Homo sapiens: one gene and its partners. The protein of the gene in region 3 interacts with the protein of the main gene of each other region in a pairwise test. Each region holds a gene or a part of one and is shown on either strand. Other genes may lie near its edges. The genes, in order: FDFT1, TMEM207, JAGN1 and KCNA1.

Region 1 (7,167 bases), on a different chromosome or scaffold from region 3:
AAACCAAGTTTTGAGGCTTTAATTCCTTGGAAAATACTGTCGAGTCTAGCTCAGTGGTCCCCAAGCTTTTTGGCACCAGGGACCGGTTTCATAAAGACAATTTTCCCAAGGACAGAGGGAGGAAAATGGTTTTGGGATGAAACTGCCACCTCAGATCATCAGGGACTAGATTCTCACAAGGAGCATGCAACCCAGATCCCTCACACGCGCAATCGCACCTATGAGAATCTAACGCCGAGTGGAGCTCACGTGATAATGTTCACTCACCCGCCGCTCACCTCCTGCTGTGATGCCCGGTTCCTAACAGGCCACGTAACAGAAGGTTTAGTGCCGGTCCTAGGCCTGGGGGTCGGGGACCCCTGGTCTGGCTGTATTCCATGTGGCAAGTTATCTTGGCTGGTGACAAATGAGTCCAGGGCTAAGCCTCAAATGAACCAATTAACTGAAGTCTCCCTGGGCCCAAACTAATTTTGGTGTCAGTGGTCACAGCAAGAAAGTGTGCTTACAACAATGCAAATCCAACGCTGCAGCTCGAAACAACTCAAATTCAATGATTAAGCCACCATCCACGATGGGCTGCAGAAGAGTAGACTTTATGAGTACCTGTAGCATTAATGGCTTCTAGAAAGTACCGAATGCCCTAGTACACCAATTCTCAACTCGAGGGTCCACAGGCCTCCTTGCTGCACTGAGCACCTCAGTGAGAGCACATCACAAGCTCTGCTGCACTGGAGTAGAGAGGAAGGTGAAACCCCGAGCAGAAGTACTGTTCTGCCCCCAAGCCAATCACCTGAAGACAGCTTTTGCCTTTCTTAAGACCTGAATATATAAACTGATAACTTTAGAAAACAAAAACTGCTGGGGGAAATTTTTTTTTTTTTTTTTTTTTTTTTTTTTTTTTTTTTTTTACAATTTTTTCCTTTTTTTGAGATGGAGTCTCGCTCTGTTGCCCAGACTGGAGTGCAGTGGCGCGATCTGAGCTCACTGCAAGCTCCGCCTCCCGGGTTTAAGCCATTCTCCTGCCTCAGCCTCCCGAGTAGCTGGAACTACAGGCACCCGCCACCACGCCTGGCTAATTTTTTTTTTTTTTAGTAGAGACGGGGTTTCACCGTGTTAGCCAGGATGGTCTCGATCCCCTAATGTCGTGATCCGACCGCCTCAGCCTCCCAAAGTGCTGGGATTACAGGCATGAGCCACCACGCTGGGCCATCAACTCCATTCTTGAGCTCCATCTTTTCCACAGTCAGGCAGGCTTTCAAGCGAACTGTACTTGACAAATGCAGAGCAATTAAATTCTTTATTATAAAAATCTCAAAAATGTCCACCTTTACTGGAGACCAATCTTCTAAAAGGTCAAAAGCAATCCTGCTGTTTCTCTCTGAAAGCTAAACTCCTTTAAATGAGAATACGAGAATACCCAGAATTTTATTCCCAGCCTTTGTGTGGAAAAGGCAGTTTGCATTCTTAGGAAACATCTAACTGTTACCTAAACCATAAATATTTCTATCTACTCCATTCAACCCAATTAAAGAAAACAAAATGATGAGAAAAATAGGAGCCGAACAGAAAGAAAATTCACATCATTTTCTACTATTACGAACATTCAAATGGTGCTTCAAATTAAATACTTTTAATTATCATTCTAGCCAGGATCATACTAAGTAGGATCTCATGACAGTCACATATGCAGCGACTTCACCTAAACCGTGGCACTGAATGCTCTGCCATGAGCCACAAGCAGCACAGTGATCATCACCCACAAGGACAGGTTGCTGGGATGAGGCACCCTTTCCTTTCATGTTTAGGTTCTTCTCACCTGCATTTCACTTTCCTAAAGGTCCCAGCCACACAGCGTTCTTTTAGGGATTAAAGTAGTAGGAAAAAAATAAAGAGAACACAACATCCATCCTTAAAGAAAAAAAGTAAATCCACTTTATGGTGGACTTCAGCTATGGACAAATTTGGGATCAGTGTTCTCCAGTCTGAACATAGTCTTCTGTTACCTGGGAGAGAGTGGTCAGGTACTGCCAGCTCAGGGCAGCCAAAAGCATGACAAACGACAGGTAGATGGGGGAGTAGTGGCTTCGGGAAATCAGCTGACAGTTGGGAAGATTCTGCGTCCGGATGGTGGAGATGATCTGCCTTGTTTTGCTAGAAGATGGGTCTGAGTCGGGGATTCTATGATAAATCTGTTAAAGACACAGGAAAAAATGATAAGTGCTATGTGCTTTACATTTTCCATGGCTACTTACAACAACCCTCCACTGGCAGGTATTTTATACCCATTTTACCAATGAGGAAAGGGAGGCTCAGAGAACATGAACATAACTTACCCAAAGCCATCCCAATGATAAGGTGGGGATGTCAGCCCCAGCTCATCTCAAAGCCTGTCTTCCTGAGCAAACAGGAGGCACAGGTGTGCATACTGCACCCAGAGGCCCTCGAGAGCAGCGGCTGAGCCACAATGATCTTCACATCCCCAGCACCTCACAGTGCCAGGCCCAATAAACGTCACCATAGTTCACGTAGACAGGCACAGACTAACATGACGAAAGGGAAATGCTGGAAAGACTGGGCAAAAGCAGCTTAGAAACAAGATGGAACACGCAGTACAGACCACAGCTTGACAAAGGGGGACAGGAACAGAAGCAGGGAGCCGTATGAACCACCCTGGAGTCCTCCCTGTGCCTCCCTCCCCACTCCTCCACAAGCCTCCCAAGTATGTGCAGAATCCATCTCTTCCCCTACATCCCTAAAATTACTGCCTGAGATTAGGCCCTGAGTGCCTCTCAGATGAGCTATCTCAGTCTCCAACGTGAGTCTAAGCTTAAATTCCCAAATCTACCTGTCTGCTCTACACTGTCACCAAGGAGATCTCAAACCTCTGCTTGATGCCTCAGTGGCACCAGCCCTCTCACCTGGAGAAAAAAAGCCTGAGCTCTGTAATGTGTAGCGCAAGGCCACCCATGGTCCAGACCTACTGCACCTGTCTAGTGTCACCAGCCCTTGCCCACCTCCCTCTCTACAGTCTAGTAACAGTTGCCGGGCCAGGCACAGTGGCTCATGTTTGGAATCCCAGCACTTCAGGAGGCTGAGGCACGTAGACTGCTTAAGCTCAGGCGTTTAAGACCAGCCTGGACAACACAGTAAAACCCTGTTTCTACAAAATGTACAAAAATTAGCCGGGCATCGTGGCATGCACCTGTGGTCCCCCAGCTACTTGGGGACTGGGGTGGGAAGATCACTTGAGCCTGGGAGGTGGAGGTTGCAGTGATCCGAGATCATGCCACTGCACTCCAGCCTGGATGACAGAACAAGACCCTGTCTCAAAAAACAAACAAAAACAAAAGAACAACTGTCTACTGTTGTTTCGCCCATGCGATGCTGCTGCACACCTCTGTTCCAGTCTCATACCACTCCTTCTCTCTGGAATGCGCCTCCCACGTCCCTTCAACTGGCTCCTACCTAGGCCCCCAAGTCTCAACTTCAGGATTATGCCTTCTAGAAAACCTGTCTGCAGCTCCAGGTTCAGCCAGGAGCCACCCTATTGTACATACCTTTACCTTTCCACTTACGTGGAAATGGACCATCTGTAGTTTTCACCCTGACTACACCGCACCTACTTACTCACCTTTTTATCTCCAGCCTAGCCCTGTGCTGGCACACAGCAAGCGTGCATCCCTGGCTAATTTTTGCATTTTTAATAGAGACAAGGTTTTACCAGTGTTGGTCAGGCTGGTCTCAAACTCCAGACCTCAAGTGATCCACCCACCTCGGCCTCCCAAAGGGCTGGGATTACAGGCGTGAGCCACTCCACCCAGCCAAGACTTTTCAATACAAGCATCCATAAAGTAAAATATATAGTGATGAGATAATTCTATTAGAAGTCATCCTTCTGCCTGCCCATGTTGCTTTACTGCTTGTCTTAGCCTTCCTCCTAAAAGCAGAACCTGAGGCAAAAGCTTGCATGCAGCCATTTATTTGGAAACGAGTGGAGAAGTGAAACAGAAGGCAGGAAGGCCTATCAAGGATGTGTTGAGTTGGCTTGATCTTGAGGGACCTTCAAGGAGCCTTATGAAAGGTGGCCCTGAGGAGCAGAGAGGTGGCCCTCACCTCCTCTGGGTTGTGGGGACCCACGTGCCAGGCAGTTCCTGCAGCTCGTCAGAAGCCCAAGGGCAGGAAGCGAGAGGTCTCTGGAGCAGAAGGCAAGGTCCAGCCCTACTTGGAAACTGGTTGCTACAGCAGTGGCCGAAGGCCAAGATGAGTGGCAGTGACACACAGGGTCTCACACACTACTCTTGTAAATGACCTGAGTGCCCTGATGCCATCAAAAGCCATAAAATAGGCATTCACTACAATGACCCTGAGAATAGTTTCTCAGGTAAGTAATGGTTTTGGTATATTGTAGATTTTTTTTTTTTTTTAAGATGGTGTCTCGCTCTGTCACCCAGGCTAGAGTGCAGTGGTGCAATCTTGGCTCACTGCAGCCTCCACTTCCCAGGTTCATGCGATTCTCCTGCCTCAGCCTCCCAAGTAGGTGGGATTACAGGCACCTGCCACCATGCCCAACTAACTTTTGTATTTTTTTTTTTTTTTTTTTTTTTTAGTAGAGACAGGGTTTCATCACATAAGTCAGGCTGGTTTCGCACTCCTGACCTCAAGTGATCCGCCTGCCTCAGCCTCCCAAAGTGCTGAGATTAGAGGCATCAGCCACCATGCTCGGTGACATTTCACTTTTGAAAATTTAAGACTTACCTTCTCAGAGCAACTGTACAAGCAATGTACAAATAAAGGATGATAACATCAGCACCAAACTACACACTTATTCATTCCTGGGTTAATTCTGTGGCTCCTATGACTTTATTTCTTCATTTTACTTTCTCATCTACTTGTACTTTGTTAGCCTGTTGTACTTATAACCATAAGCCATCTTACATCCTTTTGGGAAAAAAGATTTACTTATTTGGAATCAATCGCTGGCACCCAAGTGAATATACACAACCAACAAAAACCCTTTTAGAGAACTCCAAGAGCACTTCAATATGCCCTTCCAGGAGATAAGTAAGGTGAATAAATTAAGAGAAATCTTGGTTGTGACAGTCCCCGGTAATACAATTAGTGGCAAAACTTTTGAGTCCTTTGATGATCATTTCTAACATATAAGCATGACAGCACAACTGGAAGAGCTGCAGTCACTGGTACTCAGACGTGGACTTACCTAAAACAGAGCCGGTAAGGCCAAAGGGACCTTCTAGATGCTTCGTTGCTAGACCAAACCCCACTCTCCATTTACCTGAAGGCACACAGTAGGTTTCTGCAAACTCAATTATTCAGGTCTTAAAAACCTACTAGCCTCAATCAAGGAGTTACATCTGCTTGTCAAGGACAGGTCATAGCCGACTTTTCATCTACATGCCCGGCATAAAGTTGAAGCCAAATACTTGAGGGGTTTGAGAAAGGGCCTTCACCCTGTTGCCCAGGCTGGAGTGCAGTGGTGCCATCTCAGCTCACTACAACCTCCACCTCCCGAGTTCAAGCGATGCTCATGTCTCAGGCTCCGGAATAGCTGGGATGACAAGTGTGCACCACCACACCTGGCTAAATGTTGTATTTTTAGTAGAGACAGGGTTTTGCCATATTGGCCAGGCTGGTCTCGAACTCCTTACCTCAAGTGATCTGCCTGCCTCAGCCTCCCAAAGTTTTGGGATTACAGGTGTGAGCCACAGTGCGAGGCTTGATGATTAAATGACACAGGCTCCTATAAATGTTTACTAGACTGAAATAAGCTCTTGTGCAATGCTGTGCTACATACAGCAGCTCCTCTGTGAGTCCATGTGGTACTTCCACGTCTCAGCAGTTCTACTTACAACTGCGAATATGGAATCAGCTTGATCATCATTTAAAACTCTTGTCTATGAACATCTAAACTTCCATTAAAGCAAAAACATCATTTGGGAAAAAAAGGCAGATTCTGATTCGATACGTTTGGGTGGGGGCTGGATGTCTTAATGGGCTCCCAGGTGATTCCTGGCAGCTGCTGGCTGGGGACCATCCTTGAGCAGCTAGGCACCTGGGGCTCAAAGAGCCGGATGATTCTCTGACTTAACCACAGGAGGGCACAGGAAGTGTGCAGAGACACGAACAAGATTCTCCCTGCCAAGGAATTCACTTTGGCAGAGAGGGGAATGGGGGTTTCTGGCCGTTTGGCTGAGCATTTATTTCTATCCCAAAATAGCAGGTTGATCTTCTCCCCAGCTGACAAGCATCCAGGCTGGTTTGAAGCAGAGGCTGCTCCAGAGTGGGGTGAGGGCCCTGCAGTGTGGCCAACTGCTCGTGAAGACCTGGGGCTGCACTCCAAGCCCCCACTAAGCACTGGAGAAGCATGAGGAGGTCCTCTGGCAAGTCCCTTCCAGGTGCATGCTCGCTACAACACTAAGTCCAGAGATCGGACAGAGTCAACGTTTCTTCCTTTCTTACTACAAAGGACAGACTTGGTCAGCAAGGAGAAATAGGATCAGTGTTAATATCTGGACACCAGCAAGAGGCCAGACGACTTGTGGCTTCATACAAAATGTTTTCATTTAAAACTTTACTTGTAAAATGTCCTTACTGCTGAAACTAAAACCATTAACAGGTTCTACTGCTTAAGACTTAGAAATCTTCAAAGATTTCCCTAAATCAAATCAACTTAAGTATTAATATTAACATTTCTCCCCTAATGCCTTGAGTTTTACTGGGATAACAGAACAACTGATACCCTAAGTCAGAAGTCAGCAAACCTCTTATTCAAGGGCCAAAAAATATTTTCAGCTTTACAAGTCATCGCCTGTTGCAGCTCCTCAACTCGGCCGTCACATTGCAAAAGCAGCCACAGAAGACAAAGAAGCAAATGGGTGTGGCTGTGTTCTGATAACATTTATTCACAAAAACAGGGCTCAGCCAACTGTAGACTGCCCACCCTCGCCCTCAAACTATGAATTACAACCAGGATTTAATCCCAATAGTTAAGGAAAAACCAAATAAATCTGAATTTTAATATAGTAATGGAATTGGCCACAAAGTGTTTAAAAACTGGTTTCTAAAACTAGTGATCAAACTGCAAAACCAAAACACTCTCAACTACTTACTACATAAAATGTTTCTAGTTTATATAAAATGAATAAATAG
Region 2 (8,109 bases), about 180 Mb from region 3:
AATTTTCATTACGATCAGCTTTGTTAAATAAATAAGAGGCCTAGTTGATTTCTAGATATTTTTGCACACTGAATTTATCTTCCTTAAGGTTTCAAGGGTACTTTAAGTTCATAAAAGAATCATGATGTCATCTATGGCTTCATCCACACTCAAAAATCACAGTGACCAAGGGAGGCAGTTTTCTGTATAACTCAGTTTAAAATACAAGCAAACTGACCAAAATTCTAACCTGTACTGTGTGTCTATTTCAAAGTGCTTGTGATATGAATTATGTGAACAATTGACTCAATTTTTTCACTTTTTGTGCGATAGACTTAATGGTTCTCAGAATTCTATTCAGGAGATGAAGAGAAGGTGCCATTAATAATGATACTGATAATTAATATCTGTAATTCATTGTGATTTAGTATCAGAAAAGCACTTCCACCCAGCACTATCTTCTCCTGCTTGCAGCCCTTACTGTTAGCAGCTGTTTTCAGTCTTCATTGCCTGTTACACTCAAAGCCATGCTCTCTGTATAGCAGGAGGCTATGACTGTATTTCACAGCAGAAATTGGGACCATTCACCTGCTTCTGGTGGATCTTCTTATTGTTAACAATCTGCTTATTAAATTTGTGCTGCTCTTTCAGCTTTTGCATGGCTCTCGATTGCTATTTCTTTACGTTAATTTTGGAACTGCTTTTTCACTCTGTCTTATGCTGTTTGTGATGTAACAGAGTATTTGATTGTTTGCATGCTTATCTGACTCAGGATTTCCTGGCTGCCCTTATCTTATCTCCTCATCTTCTGCCTTTGACCCAGACTAACAAAATAAAGAAGTTCAGAATTGGAAAGGATCTTAAATGTTGAATCTAACTCTAATCAACGTGACAGAAACATACGGTATTAAGAAAGTTTTTATGCTGACTTTAGCGGTAGCTGAGGCTACCGCTCTCCCTTTTAGGTGAAGGGATTGAAACCTAAGAGAAATAGTAAATGAGTAGTAGGGCTTCAACTGGTACTTAGGCATCACATTCTCTGGCTACATCATTTTGCAACTAAGTGTCTGTAATGGTTATCATTATTCAATACAATTGCTTTTGAGTAAAAACAAAAAAAAATTAACCCTCAAATGAAATGTAAATTGGCAGAAAATAAACACAAAAAAGAGAGTGGCTGGGAATGTAGGGTGGTCATATAAGGTAAGTAAATGTATTGAAGACGTGCACAATATCTCAAATCTTTTGTTATCGCAAGACAGTGTCAGCGGAATGAATCTGTAAGGAAAGTCATGCTGTTTTCTGAGGGAGTAAAAAGTCCCCTCCAAGAAAAATCCTCTTTCTCTAACTATATTTATACAAGAGATTTCAGTTTCAAATCACTTCTTTGATCTGAGACATTATCTCCTGATAAAATACACTACCCAGCCAAGAGACCATATTCATCCATTTACCAGCACTGCTATAAGAGAGTAACACACAAACATGGCAGATTACAGTGAAAAGGACCGTAAAGATGGCCTACTCCAAATGTCTTTTAAAAAATGAGAAACACAAAAGGACAGTAGCTTGTCCAAAGTTCACATGCAAAATGGACACAGAAAAGGGAGACTTGGATTGGAATGCAAGGGAGCATCAAAGTAAAAACATGAAACATGGATCGCCTAGGTAGAGGCCATGGTGGAGGAGGTGCTGATTAGCTAGAAATAAAAACATATGTATTAATCAACTTCTATGTTCCAAGAATTGTGCGAAACAATTTGCATATATTTTCCATTAAAACAAACAAACAAACAAAACTGGTCGACCGGGCGCAGTGGCTAACCCTGTAATCCTAGCACTTTGGGATGCCAAAGTGGGTGGATCACCTGAGGTGGGGAGTTCGAGACCAGCCTGGCCAACATGGTGAAACCCCATCTCTACTGAAAATACAAAAATTAGCCGGGCATGGTGGCACGCACCTGTAATCCCAGCTACTCAAGAGGCTGAGGCAGGAGTATCGCTTGAACCTGGGAGGTGGCGGTTGCAGTGAGCCGAGATCGCACCACTGCACTCCAGCCTGGGTAACAGAGCGAGACTCCGTCTCAAATAACAACAACACTGGTCTATTTTATTATTCCCTATTTAAATTTGTTTTCAACACCAGGGTACGTTTTTCTGATCCAATCCAATTATTTTACTTTTCTAACTGTATTTTTAACATGAACAAAGCTTTGCTGTGCTGTCTTTGTATAAAATTTAAATGCTATAAGTAATTTATTTTATGAAATAAAGCATGACAGAGCCCCTCTTATCATACTTCTGACTTAGTCCTCTTCTGATAAATAGCCAAGGACACTGATGTGCATGAATGAACAAAAATAGATTGATTTATGAAATATAAATATGACTATACATATAAAAGATTCTGTAAATTAATTGCATTGATAGATTTTCTAATGATATACCACATCTTGCTTGGCTTGATAAAGTGAAATATCTTACTCAAGAGTAGGAAAGCAAGTTAAAAGGCAGAGCTTGGACTTGGACCTGGGACAGACTCCTGAGCCCAGAATTTCAACCACAAAGTTATATTGTATATCCAACATTTAATCAATTATACATCTGGTGAAATACCTGAGATATGCATAGTCCATTCATTCTTTGAGATACTATACAATTTACTACCAGTTTCTGGGTAATATGATTTGTGACTCATCCATCCCTCAAATTACTGTAGCTGAATTGCACTTTGGCCTATGTTGAGGAATGACTTTTTAAAAATAAAAAAAAATTCATGCAATTTGTTACTGAATTTATTCTGAGAATACTATGGAAAACATTGTTCTTATGTTAACAGTGTTCTCTTTATGAGGCCTCATAGCTTGAATTTTTCTCTGGTTTCGATGCCAGGAATAGTTGTACATCTGGTGAGTAATGCTGTTCATTTTGTTAATTTTAGAGGACACTATATAACCAATATTCTCTCTCATTATGCTAGCTGCTAGGAAGCTTAAGTCAGATCTACAGTTCAATTCAAATTTTATATACGGTATTTACTATATTCGGTTTACAAACTGATCTCACTATTGGCCTATTCTCTGTCTGATCCTCACCAGGCTCTCATTTCTATTTTTTTTTTTTTTAATTTTCAGTATTTCCTTAAAGCATTTGGAACACGGGATACTGGATTCATTCAGGCAATACTCCACATGGTACTATGAGGTTAGAGCTGGCTATTACTGTCCCAGTCGCACCACGACATGGTGATAAGAGACATGAACTCTGCAGACAGAGCATTTGGGTTGAAAACCTACTTCTACCACTTCCAGCTATGCTAACTTGCGCAAGTTACTTAATGGCTCTGTGACTGAGTTCTCTCAGTTGTAAAAGGAGAATTATAATAGTATGACCCTACTGTATAGTGGTGTAAGTTTGAGAGTCCGTTATTTCACATGAAGTTACGCATCTGGTTTTAGAAGAGTGTCTGCCCTAGAAAATGCTGAGTGATGTAACAGAGAAACCAATGAAGCAACTCTGCATATTTCTTCCTGAATTTATCAAATTCATAAATGTGTAATCTAAGGTCCACAGATTCTCAGCACAGAGAAGAAGAATAAAGATCAACTCATCTAACCATTCGTATTGCACAGAAATCATCTCCATGACATCAAAGTAACAAAAGGAAATCGTTCTGATAAGGACAGAAATTATCTCCCTCAACAATTAATTCTAGATAATTCTTATTCCAAATGTCTTTCTTACGCATTATAGTCAGCTCTCACTTCCCCCCGATGATTTTCTTTTTACCATAATCATACCAATTTGACCAATCCCTGAGGAATAATTTCATTTTCAAAAATATAACCTTTCCTATACTGAATATCTTGGAAGTAATATTTGAGTAATTAGAATACTCTTACTTTTTTAGGAACTCAAAAAGTTTCTGTTTACAACTTGAATTTAAGAGAGAAATGGAAATAATGATTCGAGGAGGGGAGCATATGGAGCCAAAAGACACATGTTCCAGTGTAGTTCTCTGACTACGTAGTGAATTCCCCTCTTCCTCTCTCCACCTTAAGTCTCAGTGGTACACTGTGCAAAATCCTAAAGGTCAATAAATGATCTCAAAGATGCCTGCGATTTGGAGCTTACATGATTACTGCACTTCTCCAGCTAACTGCTTCCTAGCCATGTTATTTCTTATCAGAAACTCCACCAGAGGGTGCACCAGCTCAGAAAAAAAAGTGAAATAAAGTTGGTTTGGAAAATTGTTAGCCCAGGAAGAAAAAAAAATAGAGGGCCTTAAAAATTAGATTTAAGAAACACAATGAGGTGGTTAATATTTAGAATTGAGTTTAACGATAAGTAAAGGGGCTATTTTCAAACAGAAAAAAAGTAAAGGAAGAGGAGGAAGATGAAATAATCCATACTCCTGACCATGAGCTTAGATGTCACAATTCAAAAAAGAAAAACAAAACAAAACAAAACAAAAAAAAAAAAAAGCTTTTTTAATTGTGTCAGGACACCAAGAGAATTTCCCCACATCTGTCTCTTAAAAAATGTATATTTTTAAGGTTTTAATTTTTTAATACAATATTTTAAAGTTCTTTTTACTACAAAGTGATTCGTGTACATTACAATAATTCAAACAATATGAAAGGGATAGAGTTTTTCATAATGCCATCTTCAAGAGAAGTGGGCACTTCAGTAGTCTGGTGTAAATTTATGTCTGGTAGTAATTTTGGCGAAATCATTGTACTTGTAGAAAATAATATATACAAAGTAAGATTGAAGTCTCTATACTATTTTATGTAGCAAGACTTATTTATAAACATGTTTACATTATTTTTGATGATTGAATAATATTCCCTTGTAAGTATGTCCCATTAATTATTTTTCACATCTTTTATTCATGGCCATTTGTCTTAGGATGCTTTTCAAAGTCACACTTCAGTTGCCATTTTTTTTTTTCCAGCCATACCTGTGAATTTTGCTAAACACTCTGGGCGCTCAAAAGAACAAAGAGCAAATAAACAGAAAACAGACAAAAGAAAAAGACGCAGAGATTTATATGTGGAGGGGAATGAAATCATCTGTAGGCTGGGTGATTGGTTTTTGTCTTAAATGTTTGTGATAGAATTTTTAAATTGACACTTCACATATGTTAAAAGTCATTTCTGACTGGTATGATGATGGGATGACACACTGCCTCCTCAGGGAAGCTAGATGCAATAAATTAACTGACATTTATGAATGTCTTCAAACTGCAATGAACTGAGTTATTTTAACAATGGCTGAAGAAGATATGATTAAGTATAGTGTCTTCTCAGAAGTGTATCTGACTGTGAATAACAGATTTCCACTGTTCAAGCTCAGTTCAGAATACCTTAAAAGTAGCTTGTATATTGAGGTATGAAAAAAGTCCATCAGCCCACATACATTTAGTGTGCCATGTTAGGCATAGTGAGGGACTCTACACCTACGGAGTTATACCTCCCAAAAATCACTCTGTGAACTTTGTCTGTCTGCGATATTTTAAAACTTCTCTCAAGAAAGATTGAATTGTGGCTAGACACACACAGGAGGGTCAACTTCCTGACTGAAGGAGTCAACTTCTAACTCCTTGGTAAATGGTAGGTATGGCCACGTTCATTCATTTTCCTCCTAGCCTAATTTCTTTCCTCACCAATTGTATAACAAGAGGGCAAACAGTTGTCCAATGCCTCCTATTCTCTACCAAGATATTCTTCCCTGGAGAATTTGAGTTTTACATGACTGTAGGTCTCTAGATGAACAGAATATAGCTATAATGGTTATCTACCTAATACCAAACACCTACGATTTGTTGTCCCTGAAGAGTTAAGTCACTGCCTTCTCAATGCTTAACAGTATTTGTAACTCTAGAATCAAACCCATTATAATGCATTTATCTGTTTATGTATCAGTCTGATAATTTCACATTTACTTGTATTCTCAGTGCCTTGAATTGAGTGGGCATAAACATTTGCATAATTGTGCTGGGTGCGGGACGATATGGGCTGGTATGGGAATATGTAGGTGACTGTTCTGGAGAAACAAGTGTGATCAGTACCAATTTTATTGGGTGAAAGAAATAGGCTTTGGCTATCCTGAGTTCCAGGACTAACGCTCTCCCTTTATCACCAGGTGTGTAAATTATAATGACCAACACCCTAATGGCTGGTATATCTGGTAAGGATATCTTCCATTTGTTTTATATGACAGTTGGTGGTATATACAGTCTTTGTCCTAAATAATTTGAGATGGTACATGAAATCATACAGCTTAAGGAAAGATTAGGGGTCATGCAAATGAATATAGAAACATCACTTTCAGATCGTTGGCCAATGTTTACTTAAACACTTCTTGTGACAAAAGGACTCACTATTTTAAAAAATAAGCTTATTCTAGAGTTGAAAATCTTTAACAGCAAAATAATTGTTATTTGTCTTGAAATCTCCCTAAATGACCCTCCACTGATATTAGTTCTGGCCTTAAAAGGCATTCCAAATGACCACTGTCTCTTCTATGAGATAATCCTTCAGATTTTTTTTTTTCTCTGAGACACAGTTTTGCTCTGTCGCCCAGGCTGCAGTGCAGTGGCGCCATCTCGGCTCAATGCAAGCTCCGCCTCCCGGGTTCCCGCCATTCTCCAGCCTCAGCCTCCGGAGTAGCTGGGATTACAGGCGCCCGCCATCACGCCCAGCTAATTTTTTGTATTTTTTAGTAGAGACGGGGTTTCACCGTGTTAGCCAGGATGTTCTCGATCTCCTGACCTCGTGATCCGCCCGCCTCGGCCTCCCAAAGTGCTGGGATTACAGGCTTGAGCCACCGCGCCCGGCCCCTCTGCCTACTTTTGAATTCCTATCCCCAATATCTAAAGTGTGTGTAGTTGCTTAAATACTAACTGAATGGATGGATGGATGAATGGCTGGATGGATGTCTGAAAGGAAGAATGGATGAATGAATTAAGACTCTGTCTTTTAGAATAACCCTCCAATTTCTAAGGAGAAAATGATTATTACCACCTGGAAAGATCAACCCTTTCTGAGGCCAAAGAATATTTTCAGTTCAGTGGAAATGTATGGGTGGTGGTAGGAAATTGCTTAAGGAATTCAGTGTCCCACATTGCTTGCGGCCAGTCTAGCTGAGTCTTCACCCCACTTCTAGGTAGTGATGGAAGCTCTTAACTTCCCTGCATACTCTACCTCATTCTTTTCTCGGTTACTTTTGGAGTCAGGATCCTCCTGCTGCTGGTTTTGGTGGCAGCTCTTCTCTGTGGAGCTGTGGTCCTCTGCCTCCAGTGCTGGCTGAGGAGACCCCGAATTGATTCTCACAGGCGCACCATGGCAGTTTTTGCTGTTGGAGACTTGGACTCTATTTATGGTGAGTTGTCTGCACGCTTCTGGACTCTTTTTTGATACTTTGTGGTTTTGCGGTTAATTGAAAAACTGTTCTCCCAAAAGCAGATCTGGGAACTTAGAAAAAGATGTGGCTTATTGGAGACACCAAGGCCTGCACTGAGGAGAGTTTAAGGGAGAAAATTTCATAAGAAAGACAATCCCAGAAGAAAGAAAATGTGTCTTGGGAACTGACCCACAGTTAAGTATAAGGAAAGCAACTAAATATTTTGTTGTTCAATAAGCAGAAGAGAAGAAGTATGCAGGGCTGGGCAGTCCAGGTGAATGGTAGGGTTTAGGGTACTGCAAAGCATCTCTGAGCTTTTATTATCAACCTGTCTTAACTTGTATTTATAAATTCATTTACTGAGCTTTCTATGCTTTACTGAACTCATCTGAAGTAACATTGAACGACACTTTCCAGATGTCTGCGGTCAATGCAGAATCTGAAATTCCATGGAATAGTCAGGGGAATGTCAATTTTCATGCCCTTTCATCTCAGCGTCCTGATCCTGTCAGCTCCCAACTTCCCCTCCCAAAACCATGCCCTTCCCTTCATTTTCCAGTTTGCATAAGGAAGTAAAGAACAGAGGAAATTCAGGGCTTAGAGTTATTTGCAGCTGCCAGCCTTAGCTGTGAGTAGAAAAAAACAACTTACTGATTTCTGGGAAGCCATAATTGATAGCTATTTCTTCATCTTAAGTATTGGCTCAAGCAGGGACTGTTGTGA
Region 3 (8,728 bases):
TGAAACCCCGTCTCTACTAAAAATACAAAAATTAGCCGGGCGTGGTGGTGGGCACCTGTAGTCCCAGCTACTTGGGAGGTTGAGGCAGAATGGTGTGAACCCGGGAGGCAGAGCTTGCAGTGAGCCGAGATCGTGCCACTGCACTCCAGCCTGGGCGACAGAGCAAGACTCCGTCTCAATTAAAAAAAAAAAAAAAAAAAAAGTGACTCAGTAATGACTAACTACATACACAATGTTTCTAGAACAAAATAATGACTACATCTCTGGAGAGGGCAGAGCTCTGCAGTTACAGATCTGGGCATCATCCAGAGACAATAAAATCAAGTGCAAAGAGACACATTATCTTTCATGCAATAAATACTGCCAGAATTTTAGGTGTGAAAGGGCCTTTAGTTTAATCACAGATCTCTTCCTTCCTGTTTTTAATGTACTTGCTCCACATCATTAGATATTATGTTCACTGTTTCACATGAATAACAAGTTTCTACTGAATTGTAAATCCCTATAAACCGAGGTACTTTAAAATTCTTTTGGATGCCATTATACAGTAGTAGACTCATAACTGATACCCAGTTAACACTGAAAGATAAATGTGAATATCCAACTAAAAGAAGAGCCCATAACCTAAGGTAGATAAATGAGAATGGACTATTTCATAGATGGAGAGATTAAATGTCTGGCCCATAGTTCTTACCAATCAGCTGTAGGTTACAACTATGACTTAGGTTCCCCATACCCAGTCTACTTCTCTATGGCCACTGCTAGGTTTCTCAAGGAGCTTCTACCCATCATCTCCTAGTGTCTAAGGCCACACCTTTCAAGCAACACACCTTTCACACTCTATCAAGCCCCAAACACAAGGCACAGTGTGGGCAGGGCCATCTTTATTGAGGTTTTTAATTAAAATGCTTTGCAGAGGAGACCACAGCCTGCCAAGGGAGCAGCTGCCCAAATGTTTCCTGACCCGTGACCTAGAGATGAAGTAATTTGATTTATTCCCTATTTCCTTTAGTCTCAATGGCTAAGGGGTAATGGATGGAAATGGGGAGAATGACCGAGTAGAGGCAAGGACGAAGCTCATTCTTAAAGAAAAACCTCAAAGTTCAACTTCAAACAGCTGAAATTTGTTTCATAGCTGTTGGTCACCCAGTTCTAGCCAACCAGGAATAAATTATAGTTTTGCCACCTCAGCAGATGGCAAAAGGAGCTTTCCAGAACTTTGGCCTGGTCTGCACCAGGTACCAACATCACAGCTGCTAAAATCACCAGAAGGGATTTTGGAACCGCTGTACTAGTGTCCTTTCATTCGATGGGATGTCCAGGCTTCACCCCAAAGAGGCTTCATTTATGCTTCTTCTCCTGTGTGCTGGTGAACCAAGAGTCTAGGAGCTTCTTGCTGTAGTACAACTGCCAGGCATGCACTTGCACTGCCAACACCAACACCAGGTACATGATGGAAACGGCAGAAAAACCAAAGAGGAAACGGTAGGCCTTGCCATGGCGGTAGAGCTGCTGTGCAGCAGGGAACATCTCCATGCTGCCATAAATGAGTGGAGCGATGGAAAAGAGTCCCATGCTGATCATGGAGAGCACCAGGTAGCTAATGTTGTTGCGGGGAAAGGAGAGAAGGCCCAAGAGAGAGGGCAAAATGCTCAGCAAATACGGGTATTCCCACTGATAGGGCATGGCCACCTGATCATGTGACAAGAGCCTCAGGTGTCCCACGCTCATCTTAGCAACCAGCAGCAGCCATATGACCAGATGTACGTAGATCAGCTTCTTGATTTCATACTTGAGAGTCACACTGTGGGGCAGAGCAGAGGGAGAAGTATCTTTCAAATTTTTCTTACCACCAACTATATGCCAGACAACTGTACTGGACACTGGGATACAAATTTGAATAAAACAGCCTAGAAGCCGGACACAAAGAACAGAGGAGGAAAAAGTAATTAGAAAATGAAGTGAAAAAGTTCTAGTAAATATATGTTCCCAGATATATGGGATCACAGGAAGGAGGAATCAACTCTGCCTGGCATGGAATGTCAGAGATGGCTATCTAGAGGCAGGTGATATCTGAACTAGGCTCAGGAATGAGTGAAGATGGGCATCCCATGCAGGAGCATGCAGACAAAAAGGCCCAAGTATTTGTGTTCCAGGAAAGCAAGTGGTTATGTGTGGCAGGAACATATTGTTAGGGGGAGAGGGGTAGTGGGATATGAATCACAAAGACTATGAGAGTTAAAAGTAGAAGAGGCTGGGCTCACAACTCTAATCCAAGCACTTTGGTAGGCTGAAGCAGGAGGACTGCTTGAGCCCAGGAGTTCGAGACCAGCCTGGCAACAAAATGAGACCCCATCTCCATAAAAAAAAAAAACAACAACAATACTACTAATAAAAAGGCAGGGCTGGGCGCGGTGGCTCACGCCTGTAATCCCAGCACTTTGGGAGGCCGAGGCGGGCAGATCACGAGGTCAGGAGATCGAGACCATCCTGGCTGACACGGTGAAACCCTGTCTCTACTAAAAATACAAAAAAATTAGCAGCACGTGGTGGCGGGCGCCTGTAGTCCCAGCTACTCGGGAGGCTGAGGCTGAGAATGGCGTGAACCCGGGAGGCGGAGCTTACAAGTGAGCTGAGATCGCGCCACTGCACTCCAGCCTGGGCGACAGACCGTGACTCCGTCTCAAAAATAAATAAATAAATTAATAATAATAATAAAGGCAGAAGGGTAGCTCAGAGCTGTGTTTAGCAAGAGGACGCTGACTGCACCATAGGATTAAAGTCTGGCGGGAGAAGGTATTGGCAGAGAGGAAACGTACTCAGGCCGCCCATACTTCTCCAGCTAGATTTTTTCATCCAAAAGAAGTACATACTTATCTTATTCTTCTAATTCTCTCACGTCCCAAACGTATCCTCCTCATATCCCTAAAGGCAATGTTTCTACTCTGGGCTGGCATGAAAACACCTGCTTAAGTTGTGAGGGCCCTTTCAGCCGGGGCCTAGAGATGTGAAACAAATGAGAGTTCAAAGAGCTTGTCATTCTTTAAAACTCTGGAGAGAGAGATGTGAAGAACATTCTGGGAGAGATCAATGGATTTAAGGAAGTAAAAATTTTAAAATTTTTATTTAAAAATATTTATTGTAGAAAATGTGGAAAGGTTGGAAAAAAAAAACAGTCATCTCTAGACTTCAAGCTCCATGAAGGCAGGGAACAGTTTTTTTTTTCTTTAATAAAATTGTTTATTGAAGGTATAACATGTATACAAAGACCACGTCTGCTTTTGCTCACTATTATAACCTAGTGTCTAGCAGTGTATGATGTTTGGAAGCTCAGTATTTGTCGAACTAGTAATTGAATGTAGAAATACCCCTTACGTGGGAGTGTTTATAAAATTCATTTTAGGCAAGGCGTCCTTAGGAAAGGCTGCCTTTTACTGTCTATATCCCCCCAAACGGCCCAAAATATAACACCTACCATATATTACGTGGTAGGCCTTATGCTACTTTCTTTACACGAATTACTGATTAATCTTTCACCAAAACCTAAAAGGCAGATTATTCTCTCCCTCTACAGATGAGGAAGCTGAGGCTCAAATTAGAAATTCGGTTTCGAAGGTGATACAGCGGGGCCAGCATCGACGTGACTCGGGAGCCCACGCAGGGCGGGAGCCCACGCGGGGCTGGATCCCCTCAAGGCACCGGGCGGAACAAGGGGTGGAGCTCGCGGGGGCCACGGGGCTTTCCAGGATGGGGGACAGGCCCGAAGCCGTCACGGGAGGAGGGGACTTGGCAGGTGAGCGGGGGCTGGCTGGGGAGCAAGACCCTGAGGCCGGGCCGGCGTCGCTCCCCAAGCCCCGCAGGCTCCAGCGGGGGAGAAAGCCTCCGTGCTCCTCGCCTCACTTCATACCTCATCTGGTAGTGCATGGCGACGCGCTCCCGGTGCTGAAAGTCGCTGCCGTCGGTGCCGGCCGCTCGCGGGCCTGCTCGAGACGCCATTGTGCCTGCCCAGAACCCCCGAACCCCTCACGCGGACCTGGTACCGCAACGACACCGCCAAGCGGCCCACTGACCCTATTTGCGCCCCCGCAGCCGCGCGGCTCCGTGAAGAGAACTTCCGGCCCCTCTGTCTCTGGAGGACCGACTCTATGGTCACTCCTCTCCGCGCAGGCGCCCTCGTTCCCTCTCGCCCCCGCCCCGCCCAGCCCCGCCTCTTGTGGAGCGCGCAGGAAATTAATCCCCAGCCTCTTTTGCTGGCGCCCAGAGGCCGCTTGAACACTTTTACTTTCTTAAGCTGTAATATCAGTTAGGATACTTCTGTCCACACTTTACAGAGGGGGAAACTGATATATTCTATGACTTTCCCTGGAGCACACATCATTCACACAGCCTCACACCTTTAATCCCAGCACTTTGGGAGGCCGAGGTGGGTGGATCACTTGATGTCAGGAGTTCAAGACCAGCCTGGGCAACATGGTGAAATCCCGTCTCTACTAAAAATACAAAAATTAGCCAGGTGTGGTGGGTTCCTGTGACCCCAGCTACTTGGGTGGCTGAGGCAGGAGAATCGCTTGAACCAGGGAGGCAGAGGTTGCAGTAAGTCGAGATTGTGCCAATGCACTCCAGCCTGGGGGACAGAGTGCAGAGTGAGACTTTGTCTCAAAATAAGTTTCTCACATTTAATTATTGCAAAGAGAAACAGGGAATCTCTCAGTGAGGAAATCTGGCTTGTCTCCCTTAAACATATAGTCAGTTAATTTGATCAATAATGAGATAAACTGATATCTTGTGCCTCTTTTAATAGACTGAGGACACAGCATCACTTCTATGATGTTTCTGCCAAAAATACCTAACTGAATCTAATCATGAAGAAATGACATAAATCCAGACGGAGGGACAGTCTAGAAGAGAGCTGGACTGTACTCTTCAAAAATGTCAAGGCCATGAAAGAAAAATTATTTCCAAATAAACTTTATCTGTAGAGACAAAGTAGAATGACCATTGCCAGAAGCTCGAGGGGTGGACAGAGAATGGGGAGCTAGTGTTTAATGGGTACAGAGCTTCAGTTCGGGAAGATGAAAAAAGTTCTGGAGATGGATGGTGGTACTGATTGCACAACTATATGTGTGTGCTTAATGCCACGGAAACTGTACACTTAAAAATGATTAACATAGTAAGTTTTATGTTATGTGCATTTTACCACAACAAAATACTAAGCGAAACTTTAAAGAAAGAAGTTATATTATCCGAATAAAGAAAAAAAGAAAGAAAAAAGCATGTATAGTGAGCATCTTCCATGCACCAGGATGCTCTGCTATGACCTGGGGACGCAGAAATAAACATGGTCCATTTCCCCTGAGGGATCCCAGCCCAGTCGGGGGAAGAACTTGTACCCATGAAGCTAAGAAATTCAAGAAAACACAGGAGGCTGAGGGAGGAAAAATGAGGCCTCTCTCCCTGACCTGGAGGGTTAGGAAAGTCTCTCTGGAGTGGCAGCAATTGAGCTGAGGTCTGAAGCCTGAGTGGGAATTGGCTAAAGAGGTGGGGAGCGGAAGAGCTTTTCAGGCAGAGGGAACAGCATGTGTGAAGGCCCCAAATCCAGAGAGCACTTGGCTCTTCAAAGAACTGAGAAACTTAAGAGTGACTGGAGCATTTGGAGGGTTCAGTAAAGAGTTAAGTCTTTATCCCAGGGGGTTTGGGGAACCACTAAAAGGTTTAACCAGGAAAATGACACAGTTTTGCATTTTTAAAAGATAGGTCTAGGTGGGGGCACAGTGCCTCAAGCCTGTAATCTCAGCACTTTGGGAGGCCAAGGCAGGAGATCAGCCTGGGCAACATAGTGAGACTCCCGTCTCTACAAAAATAAAAAATAAAATAATATTAACTGGCATGGTGGTGCGTGCCTGTAGTCCAGGCTACTCGGGAGGATGAGGTGGGAGAATCATTTGAGACCAGGAGTTCAAGGTTACAGTGAGCCATGATTATGCCACTGCATTCCATTCTGGGCAACAGAGTAAGACACTGTCTGTAAATAAATAAATAAAGATAGATCTAGTTGCTGTGTAGAGAATGGCTTGCAGGGGCCAAGGGTGAAGCAGAGGAATCACTTGAAGGCTACTGCAGTAATTCAGGCAATCCTAGGGGTGGCTTGGGCTAGGAGGTGGCAATGGACAGAGAGGAACAGATTTGAGTTCCTTGGGATTTAACATCTGTAGGTGGGTAACAAGAGCACATATGACCAGCAAGGGGCTCACACTAGGAAGGGAGTCTGTGTGGCTGGGATCTGAGAAAGGCAAGCAAGAAATCAGCAACATTGGCCGGGCACGGCTCACACCTGTAATCCCAGCACTTTGGGAGGCCGAGGCAGTGGATCACTTGAGGTCAGGAGTTCAAGACTAGCCTGGTCAACATGGTGAAACCCTGTCTCTACCAAAAGAAATACAAACATTATCAGGGTGTGGTAGCGCATGCCTGTAGTCCCAGCTACTTGGGAAGCCGAGGCAGGAGAATCCCTTGAACCCGGGAGGCGAAGGTTGCAGTGACCTGAGATCACACCACTGCACTCCAGCCTGAGCAACAGAGTGAGACCCTGTCTCAAATTTTAAAAAAATAAGAAAAAAGGCTGGGTGCAGTGGCTCACGCCTGTAATCCCAACACTTTGGGAGGCTGAGGCGGGCAGATCACAAGGTCAGGAGATCGAGACCAGCCTGGCTAACACGGTGAAACCCCGTCTCTACTAAAAATACAAAAAATTAGCCAGGCGTGGTGGTACGTGCCTGTAGTCCCAGCTACTCGGGAGGCTGAGGCAGGAGAATCGCTTGAACCTGGGGGACGGAGGTTGCAGTGAGCAGAGATCATACTGTTGCACTCCAGCCTGGGCGACAGAGTGAGAGAAAAGAAATCAGCAACATTTATTGAGTACCTACTCTATGCCAGGCATATTCACACACGTGAACTCATTCTCTTTTTCCAATACCCTTGGAGATAATTACTTTTGTTATCATTATCTTACACAAGGGAAAATTAAGGCTCAGAAAGGGGAAGTGACTTGCCCAGGATCACGCAGCAATTGCACTATAAGAACTCAGACCAAAGTGGCCCTAGGGCTGCAGGATTTTTACTACCAGATCTGTTACTGTCCTGTTTAAGGGATGACGGTTCAGGACCCACTGAGGGATAACTAAGAGGGTTCGGGACCTCTGGGGAAATGGGCCAGGAATATTTGTCACCTCCCCCCAGGCTCTCTAGAATGTCTTTCTTTGCCCTGTGGAAATCCTGGTGACACTTTGGGACCCATCTTACTGCACCAAGGATCACCTGCTTCCACATTAGTTCTCATCGTTTTTGCTGTCTGTGAAGCCTGGTCTAGAACCATCTGTGATAGACTCATCCAAGATGCTTGTTAAAAACACAGATTTCTGGGCCCCACCCTTACCCAAATGAATCATTCCCCAAAGTTGGGCCTAAGAATATCTTTTTAATTTAAAATGTTGACTAGGTAATGCATTTACATGGTTCAAAAGCCAAACAATAAGCTGGCTGCGGCGGCATGTACCTGTAGTCCCAGCTACTCATGAGGCTGAGGTGGGAAGATTGCTTGAGTTCAGGAGTTTGAGGCCAGCCTGGGCAACATGATGAGACCCTGAGCATGGTGGCTCATGCCTATAATCCCAGCACTTTGGGAGGCTGAGGCAGGAGGATTGCTTGAGTCCAGGAACTCGAGATCAGCCTCGGCGACATAGCAAGAACCTATCTCTAAAAATAAAATTAGCCAGGCAGGATGGCATATGTCTGTAGTCTCAGCTACTCAGGAGGCTGAGATGGAGGATCACTTGAGCCCAGCAGGTTGAGGCTGCAGTGAGCCATGATCACACCATTGCACTCCAGTCTGGGCAACGGAGCAAGACCCTGTCTCAAAAAGAAAATGCAAATGGTCATACAGAAAGGATGCTAATGCAAAGGCATAGCTGTTTAGAGCAGAGGTTCATAGCTGTTTTTGTGCCATGAATTTCCTTGGCAGCCTGGGGAAACTACAGACTCTCAGAATGATATTTTTATTTTTTATTTAATTAATTTTTTTTTGAGACAGGGTCTTGCTCTGTTGCCCAGGCTGGAGTGCAGTGGTACCATCATGGCTCACTGAGCCTTGACCTCCTGGGCTCAAGTGAACTTCTTGCCTCAGCCATGCAAGTAGCTTGGATTACAGGCATGCACCACTATACCTGGCTTATTTTACATTTTTTGTAGAGATGGGGGTCTTGCTATATTGCCCAGGCTGGTCTCAAATTCTTGGCCTCAAGCAAACCTCCTGCCTTAGCCTCCCAAAGTGCTAGGATTACAGGCATGAGCCACCACACCCTGCCTTATTTTATTTATATTTTTAGAGACAGGGTCTTGCTCAGACTGAAGTGTAGTGGTACAATCATAACTCACTACAACCTCGAACTCCTAGGCTCAAGGGGCCCTCCCACCTCAGCCTCCTGAGTAGCTGGGATGTGTGCCACCACACCCAGCTAATTTTTGTATTTTTTGTAGAGACAAGGTCTTACTGTGTTGCCCAGGCTGGTCTTGAACTCCTGACCTCAAGAAATACTCCTGCCTCAGCCTCACAGACTGCTGGGATTACAGGTGTGAGCCACTGTGCCCTGACCCTGCCTTGTTTTGACTGAACAATATATCTTGACTGTTTTCTCCAGATCATGAAGAAACATAAAGAACATCCTTACTCTTT
Region 4 (8,506 bases), on a different chromosome or scaffold from region 3:
TGCTAAGTGGGGCTTTTTTGTTTGCTTGCCTTTGTTTTTTAAACATCGGTCAGTAGCTTGCTCTTATTAACGCAGTTTTGGTTAGCAGTGGTGCAATTGGCAGTTCTGATATTGACCTGTCTATAATGGGCTATGCTATTATTCATATCCTCTTCGATCTCCATGTACTCAGACTTGCTCATAGTAGAGGAACTGCGGCGACTGAGGTCACTGTCAGAGGCTAAGTTAGGGGAACTGACGTGGAGCAACTGAGCCTGCTCTTCCCCCTCAGTTTCTCGGTGGTAGAAATAGTTGAAATTGGACACAATGACAGGTACGGGCAGGGCAATTGTTAGCACACCAGCGATGGCACACAAGGAGCCCACGATCTTGCCTCCAATTGTCACAGGGTACATGTCACCGTATCCTACAGTGGTCATGGACACCACCGCCCACCAGAAAGCATCGGGGATACTGGAGAAGTGCGACTCAGCTTCTTCCGCCTCGGCAAAGTACACTGCACTAGAAAACAGGATGACCCCGATGAAGAGGAAAAAGATGAGCAGCCCTAGCTCTCTCATACTAGCTTTGAGGGTCTGGCCCAGGATCTGGAGGCCCTTAGAGTGGCGGGAGAGCTTGAAGATTCTAAAAACCCTTACCAAGCGGATGACCCTGAGGATGGCCAGGGAGGTGGCCTGCTCGCCCTTCTGGTTTCCTTCCTGCTCAGCTATCTCGGTGCCCAGCGTGATGAAATAAGGAATGATGGCCACAATGTCTATGAAGTTCATGATGTTTTTGAAGAAGTCCGTCTTGCTGGGGCAGGCGAAGAAGCGCACCACCAGCTCGAAGGAGAACCAGATGATACACAGCGTTTCCACGATGAAGAAGGGGTCTGTGAAGATGTTGGAATTGTAGATGACCGTGGTGTTGTCGATGCGGTGGACGGTGCCCGTGAAGTCCTTGTCATCCTTCAGCTCGGGGAGCGTCTCCAGGCAAAAGATGACGATGGAGATGAGGATGACCATGACGGAGACGATGGCGATGACCCTGGCGGGCCCCGAGCTCTCGGGGTACTCGAAGAGCAGCCACACCTGGCGCTGGTACTCCTTCTCGGGCAGAGGGCGCTCCTCCTCCTTGATGAAGCCCTCGTCCTCCCGGAACTTCTCCATGGCCTCCTCGCCCAACTCGTAAAACTTGATCTCCTCGGAGAACATGTCCAGGGGCACGTTGACCGGCCTCCGCAGGCGGCCGCCGGACTGGTAGTAGTAGAGGATGGCGTCGAAGCTGGGCCGGTTGCGGTCGAAGAAGTACTCGTTCCTCAGGGGGTCGAAGTAGCGCATGCGTTTCTTAGGGTTGCCCAGCAGCGTGTTGGGGAACTGCGCCAGGGTCTTGAGCTGCGTCTCGAAGCGCAGCCCGGAGATGTTGATCACCACGCGCTCGCAGCACTCGTGGTCGTCGTGGTCGGCCTGCCGGGGGTAGCTGCCATCCTGGGGGTGGCCCGGGGCGGCCGAAGCCTCGTCCACGTTCTCCCCAGACATCACCGTCATGGTGGAAGCCGGGCGCGGGGGTGGGAGGCCAGGAGAGAGCCCGGGGTGGGAAGCAGCCAGGGACCAGGGGTGGGGGGGACCCAAGCGGCCCCCCCACCGGAGCGCGCGTCTCCCTCACGCCCAGGGGGAGGTGCTTCAACACGAGCAGGTCGGGAGATCTGCGACTTTGCCTCTCGCTGCCTTCCCCTCCACCCTGCCTTTCACTCAGTTTGGAATCCCCCTCGCCTGCGGGCCGGGTGCAGCTTTTTGCAGAGGGTTGGGTTTGGGTTTGGGGGTTTGTTGGTTTTCTGTTGTTGTTGTTTAGATATTTCTTCCTGATCCCAGGTGCCTTAACGCAGTGCCGTTCTAGCGGACTGGGCCATTGCTTCGGGGGTCGCCCTGGCCTCCCCTCCCCTCCGAGAGCCTTCCTAGGACCCGGTGCAGTGCCGGCTCGGCAGATCCCCACGCCTGCCACCCTCTCTGCTTCTCCTCGGCTCTCCCCCCTCCTACCCCTCTTCGCCTGCCGCCTTCTAAGCTCCCACCAGGGCGATCGATGCACGCTGCAGAGAAATAGAAAGTGATACGGGGGTAGAAAATCAGAAGCATTCAGATGGGACGGACCTACAGACACCGAAGAACACAGACCTCTAGCTTGAGAAAGCACTGGACGTTTGCTAGGGCTATCACACACACACGGACAGACGACACGCAGACACCCGGAAATCCAAGTTTGGGGCTCTTCCATCCCACTTTCCCCAATGCCCAACAGCCGATCTGTTTACAACTTCGTTAAACTAGAGATCGGAAAAGCGCCGAGAGACGCCGGGGGAAGCTCAGGGTCCCGGACAGCATCCCCGCACCCCCGGCCTCCCCCACCCGGTCCCCCCAACCCCCGCTTCTGCATCCCCGAGCTGGGGAACCCCCTACCTGGCCGGCTGGCTTGGCGCAGGGGCGGTGCTGAGTCAGCGGAGAGCCCGAGTGGGAATGCGGCAGGTCGTCTTTGCAGTGCCCTGGCGGGAGCCGCGGCGGCCGCCGCAGCAGCATCCGAGACGCGCCGGGCAAACTCGCCGCCCTGGTCCACTCGTCCGACGCCCCTCTCAGTTGGACAATCGCTTTACGGAGCAGCTACGGCGAAAATGTTCCTTCCCTACCCCCATTCTCACCGGTTGCCAGCAACCTGGAGACGCCGTCCTCTCTCCGGTGCAGGGAGTTCCGGAGGATGCGGGGCGGAAAAGCAAAATACCACCCTCTCTCGAAGCTCCGAGGCAAATGACGATAAACAGCACTCTCGCCCCCTCCTAACACTATGGGAGCCCTTGATTCGATCCCGAAGGAGGCGGGCGGGCGAGAGCCTGGATCTACATGGCTCTCCAGTTCCCTTCGCTCTCCGCACCCCAGCGCGGACCTCGCCAAGGCTACGCGGCGCGCCAGGAGCCCTTAGGAGCTTGGAGTGGAGCAGGGTGCGTGCGGCGGCGGGTCCGCTCGGTCCATTTCTGGGCGCTGCAAGATCAGCAGAAACCTGAGAAAGCGCCTGGAATACCGAGCAGCGATTGGCCCACCCGGGCGTGGGTTGGGGAGGGCGGGGGAGGGCAGGAGCGAGGAGGTGGATGGAAAATATGAGGGGGTGGTTTGGAAGAGAGCGGGGTTGTCATTCAGTTCCCACCCTTGCCAGCACAGCTTTTTCCTCTCCTACCAGAAAAGCCGACCGCTAACTCTACTTCCCCTGTGGCCCGCCGCCCCGCCCACGAACGGCCCCTAGCGGCTCGCGACCTTCCCCGGGAATTTCACATTGGAAATGGTCAGGTCCGACGCAATGCAGGCGGTGGTGTTTCTGGCAAAACTCCTCCGACGGGTTTGCTTTTGTGCAGTCCCACAGTAACCCTCTTCGATCGCACTGCTCTGCGCCCCATCCCGCTCCTCCCCCAAGAAGGCCCTTGCTCTCTGCGGGGCCCACCCAGCTTCCCCCGCCGGCTGGACTCGCAGAGCTGCAGACTTTGGGCAGAGCTGTGCAGATGAGGATCCCTGGGTTTGTTCCATGTAGTTTTACTGGGCGGCGGCGGTACTAAGAGCCTGTCCCTCTTTAACCTACGATGGGACTTGAAGTTTTCTTACGATCCGATTATTCTGAAATACAGGGAATGTGACTTGTGGGGGACCGAAGGCTTCGTGGGTTTGTGGGGTTGTCTGCCAACTTGGTGCTAATTGGGAATAATCTGAGAAGCAAGTCGCCTACTCACCTCCCACCCTATGTCCCTCCTCCCGCAGCCTTTTTCCCCAGCCTAGTGCCTCCACAGGGCCACTTTCAAAGCTTGCAATTTATTTGGAAAGGGTCCCCCGCAGAGGCGCATGGCAGCAGGAGCCGGGGGCGTGTGCCTTGCCCTGCGAGTGCGGCTGGAGCTGCGCCCCCAGAGGCGCTGCATCTCCGCGCCTGCAGCGCGAGAAAAGGCAGCAGGCAGCTTGGTACCTCCAGGGCTGCGGAGTCTCTAAGGAGGCTGCAAGAGCCCAGAGTCGCCGCTGATTGGCTCCTCCCGCGGCCTTGGGACCACCCTTCTCACCACCGTTGCCTCCCGCCTACACCACCCACCTCCTTAATCAAAGCCAATGATTGCATCCTTCCCGCTCTATTGTGGCTAGTGGAAAGCAGGGGCCCCTGCGGGATTGCCCAGGCAGTGCAACAGTCCCTGTCTGGAACTAGTTAAATCCTTCCTCCAGATTCAGACGCCAGCATTCCTTTCAGAAAAACAAAAGTGTATGTTCCCTCCCCTCCTTCAGATCCGTACCCCAGCTTTTCTTTCATGAACAATGAGTTCTCTTATACTCCTCCTTCCCATATTAAACTCTTCCCCTTTCCCACCTTCCACACGCATATCCCTCAATCTCAATAGCTCCAGGGATCCCTACCTTTCTGCACTGCTGTTCTAATGCAAATAAATATATTTTTTAAAAAAATTTAAAAATAAAAACAAAGATATAAATATGAAGCTCCCAGCTGAAGTACTGCCAAGTCTTTTGGTTTTGTTGCTGCTGCCACTGCTAGAACCCTACTGGGGATAACCCTACGAGACAAGGGTTTTCTGACCATATCCTAGCACTACTGAGCTTCCCTATTCTCCACTTTATCTGTCCTTATCTTGTACCTCCCTCTTCCTATAACCCATTGCCTTCCTTTAAATGTCCCTAAGACTGTCATCTTCCTAGCTTCTTGTGAATGCATGTGCCCTGACTCAGCATTAGGAGATTGCCTTACTACAAGGGATTCACAGATTGGATGAGATCCCAGGTTCCTAAATTCCGGGTTTTATTGGGGGGCATATTAGGAAATCTTCCACATCTCTGATAGATGTGTTTACAGCAGGACTGGACCTCCAAGGGACTGGAAGAAAATTGTGAGCTGGGAACTCAGCATTCTCCTCCTCCTCCTCCTTCTTCCTCTTCCTCTTCTTCCTCTTGTTCTTCTTTGAGACAGAGTGTAGTAGTGTAATCATAGCTCACCGCAACCTTGAAGTATTGGGCTCAAACAATCCTCCCACCTTAGCCTCTGGAGTAACTGGGAGGACAACAGGCACAAGCCATCACTCCTGGCTAACTGGAACTCAGCATTCTTGATGGAAGTCCTCCCTTGGTAAGGGTCTGAAGATATTTATTAATTCAACAAATATTTGCCCAGCCCCAGCTATGGGCCAGATGGTGCCCTTGCACTGGAATGGAGACATATAAGGTCCCAGGTCTCATGGAGCTCATATTCTGGTGGGAGATACAGACAATAAACATATACGTCATACATTATAGTGTTAGATAAAGAAAATTAAGAATCAGGCACAGCAAGTGACAAATATAGGTTTGCAGATAAGAAGGGCCTCTCTGCAGAAGTAACATTTGAACAAAAAACATCAAGAAGAGAGAGCAAGGAACAGGAAGATGAAAGGATGGGTGTAAGAGCAAAGGTCCCAAGGCAAGGACAGACTCAGCATATTCAGGAAACAAGAGAGCCAGTATGGCCAGAAAGAAGTCACTGAGAAAGAATGTCATCAAAGGTAGGTCAGAAAGGCAGGCAGAGCCCAGATCATGCAGGGCCTCTAAGGCTATGGTAAGAATAGTTCATTTCATTCTGAGTACAATGGGAACCTACTGGAGGATATGCATCAATATAGCAATATGATTTGCATTTCTTGGAGATTATTCTGGCTACTAGAAACAAGACACAAGGTTGGAGGTTACTAAGTAGCATAAGCAATGTTGGCTTAGATGAGGGAGACTGTGGTGAGCTTGTAAGGAGTTTTTGGAAGAGAATTACATTTTGAAATAGAGATGGCAGAATTTGGGATGTGAGGAAAGAAAAGTTTTAGGACTGTCTCCTAGGCTTGTGGCCTTAATAACCAGATAAATGGTAATATCATTTACTGCAGGAGTGTCCCAAACAGTTTCGCTCCTACCTAGATGTGAGTTCCTTGAAGTCTGAGATCTTCTGTGTCTTCTGAGATCTTCTGTGTTGGGCAGCTTAGGAGCTCCTTGAAGTCTGAGACCTTGTGTGTCTTAGTTGTCACTGTATTGGGCAGCGTAGGCCATCTCCTCAGATTCTCTCCAGCTCACCATTGTCTTGTCCAATGGCCACTTGCCCCACTGCAGGTGCTGCTGGAAAAGTCAACTCGATGGGTGGCAGAGTTCTGCCTCTTGAAGTTGACAGCACTGCAAGGAGTGGAATCTGGATTCCTCAAGACTGCAAAAAGGCCTAGGTGAGTAACACAAACCTAGGGGTGCATTAGCTCAATGGACCAAGAGGAGCTTGCCCAGTGGGAGATGCAAGCTAGGATGGAGCTCGTCGGTAAATCCCCTCTACCTTTATTATTTTCATGGCCAAGCAACCACATGGTCTAATGAAAAGGCTGTGTCTCTTTGTGACTCATGAAGCAGTAACTAGTTTGGTAACTCTTCTCCTTGGATCTGCACCCTGTCCTTCCCTGTCTCACTCTCCTTTTCTCTTCCTCTCATGGTTCTGGCTTCACACCTCCCATTAAAGCATTCGCACATAATCCTGTCTTGGGTTATGCTTTCTAGGGAAGCTGAGCTGAGGCATGGGGAATCACAACTTTGGTTTGGGACATGTTACCTTTGAGATACCTAGAAATATGCAAATGAGGATGTTGAGTAGAAAGTTAAACATACAAGGTTAGAGTTCAGAGAAGAGGTCTGGGTAGATCAAGGTTTCTCAACTTTAGCACATTTGGGCTGAATACTTTTTATTGTTGTGGGGTGTGGTCCTGTGGATTTTAGTATATTCAGCAGCTTCCCTTGCTTCCAGCCATTAGATGCCAGTAGCACCTTCCCCTAGTTGTGACAACCAAAAGTGTTTCCAGACAATGCAAAAATCACCCTCAGCTGAGAACCACTTGGGTAATTAAAGCCAGAGTAGCAGATTACAGAGATTACAGCACTTGAACCTGAGGGTAGAAAAGGAAGAGGAAATATGCAGAGATCATGCCTTGGGACGCTCTAATGCTGAGAGGTCGATAAAAGAAGGAAGAGCCACCAAAGGAAACTGAGAAGGAGTGATGATGAGGTGAACAAAACAGGAGAATGTGGGGTCTGCAAAACCAAATGAGAACAGTATGTTAAGAAGAAGGGAGATATCAACATTGTTGCTTACTGCCAGTAAGATGAGTAGAATGAGGAACATAGAAATGACTATCAGATTTAGAAAAATTGAGTTGAAAAGAGATTGAGAGAGAACTGAGGACAGTAGGTAAAAACAGCTCTTGGAGTTTTGGTGCCCAGGGGAACAGAAGAATGGGGTAGTAGACTGAAGGAAGATGATGAGTGATGAGACTTTTTTTAAAAAAATGATGAAATCTATTACAATATGTTTGTATGCTAAGGGCAATGACTCAGTAGAAAGAAAAGAAATAGTGATGTGGTAGAAAGAGAAAAATCAGAGCAATGTTCTTGAGAAAGCAAAAGGAGAATGGAATCTAAGACCCAAAATAAGGGATTGGCCTTGGAAAAGGGCAATTTCTCTATAGAAATGGGAGAGAGACAGAGAGCAGAAGTCAGCTGCAAGTAATTGAGTAGAAGTTGTGGGAGTTAGTGGACATTCACCTATGCAATCAGAAGAAATTTTCTCAGTAAAAAGGAAAGCAAGGTCATCAGCTGAAAGTGAGGATGGGGAAGGAGGCCTTAGAAATAGGAGGGGTGGCCAGACGTGGTGGCTCATGCCTGCAATCCCAGCACTTTGGAAGGCCAAAGTGGGTGGATCACTGGAGGTCAGGAGTTCAAGACCAGCCTGGCCAACATGGTGAAATCTGTCTCAACTAAAAATACAAAAATTAGCTGGGTATGGTAGCGTGCACCTGTAGTCCCAGCTACTTGGGAGTCTGAGGCAAGAGAATCACTTTAACCCAGGAGGCGGAGGTTGCAGTGAGCCAAGATTGAGCCACTGCACTCCAGCCTGGGCAACAGAGCAAGACCCCATCTCCGAAAAAAGAAAAAAGCAAATAAAAGAAAAGAAATGGGAGGGGAAAACTGCAAAATAACCACTTAGGAGAATTGGAAAGTGAAAGGGTTGGGGAATGTAGCAGGGTTGCCTGGCAGCACCGAGGGCTCACTTGTGGTGAGGAACCATGCAATTAAGTAATTGGGCACTGGGTGTCTGAGATTAACTTGGAAGTGAGTCAGGATAGAATTCGTCCTGATGATCATTTATGAAAAAATGTGCACTCGTTCTACATGTAGTGTCCTTCTTAAGATCAGTTTCTTAAGTGTTATACAGTGGTAAGGCAAGAGACGGCATGAAGGGAGGTGGTCATACTAGGCAGGAATATGCCCACGGACTCACTATAGACCCTGTTGAGGGCAGTGTCACAAGCAGAGGAATGGGGGTCTTACAAGATTTGAAGTATAATTGTAAAAAGTAATATAGAACAAGTAGGACTTGAAAGGGAAAACTCAGAAGTCACCAAGGATTTAAGATGACAATGAGTAATATGGAGTCCTCTTGGTGGCATTAT

What was found.
Region 1: the proteins of JAGN1 (region 3) and FDFT1 interact in binary tests that used the Homo sapiens proteins (3 or more experiments, as listed by UniProt).
Region 2: the proteins of JAGN1 (region 3) and TMEM207 interact in binary tests that used the Homo sapiens proteins (3 or more experiments, as listed by UniProt).
Region 4: the proteins of JAGN1 (region 3) and KCNA1 interact in binary tests that used the Homo sapiens proteins (3 or more experiments, as listed by UniProt).

Annotation. Positions count from the first base shown.
Region 1 is NC_000008.11:11,833,410-11,840,576, reverse strand, and holds the end of FDFT1 (squalene synthase), read right to left. Parts: intron 2,190-7,167; coding exon 1,968-2,189; 3' UTR 1,279-1,967; downstream 1-1,278. UniProt on the Homo sapiens protein: Catalyzes the condensation of 2 farnesyl pyrophosphate (FPP) moieties to form squalene. Proceeds in two distinct steps.
Region 2 is NC_000003.12:190,439,500-190,447,608, reverse strand, and holds part of TMEM207 (transmembrane protein 207 precursor), read left to right. Parts: intron 1-6,126; coding exon 6,127-6,171; intron 6,172-7,219; coding exon 7,220-7,365; intron 7,366-8,109.
Region 3 is NC_000003.12:9,885,991-9,894,718, reverse strand, and holds JAGN1 (protein jagunal homolog 1), read right to left. Parts: upstream 4,110-8,728; 5' UTR 3,997-4,109; coding exon 3,908-3,996; intron 1,911-3,907; exon of another isoform or gene 1,805-1,910; coding exon 1,342-1,804; 3' UTR 370-1,341; downstream 1-369. UniProt on the Homo sapiens protein: Endoplasmic reticulum transmembrane protein involved in vesicle-mediated transport, which is required for neutrophil function.
Region 4 is NC_000012.12:4,904,399-4,912,904, reverse strand, and holds the start of KCNA1 (potassium voltage-gated channel subfamily A member 1), read right to left. Parts: upstream 3,001-8,506; 5' UTR 2,433-3,000; intron 2,066-2,432; 5' UTR 1,527-2,065; coding exon 39-1,526; 3' UTR 1-38. UniProt on the Homo sapiens protein: Voltage-gated potassium channel that mediates transmembrane potassium transport in excitable membranes, primarily in the brain and the central nervous system, but also in the kidney.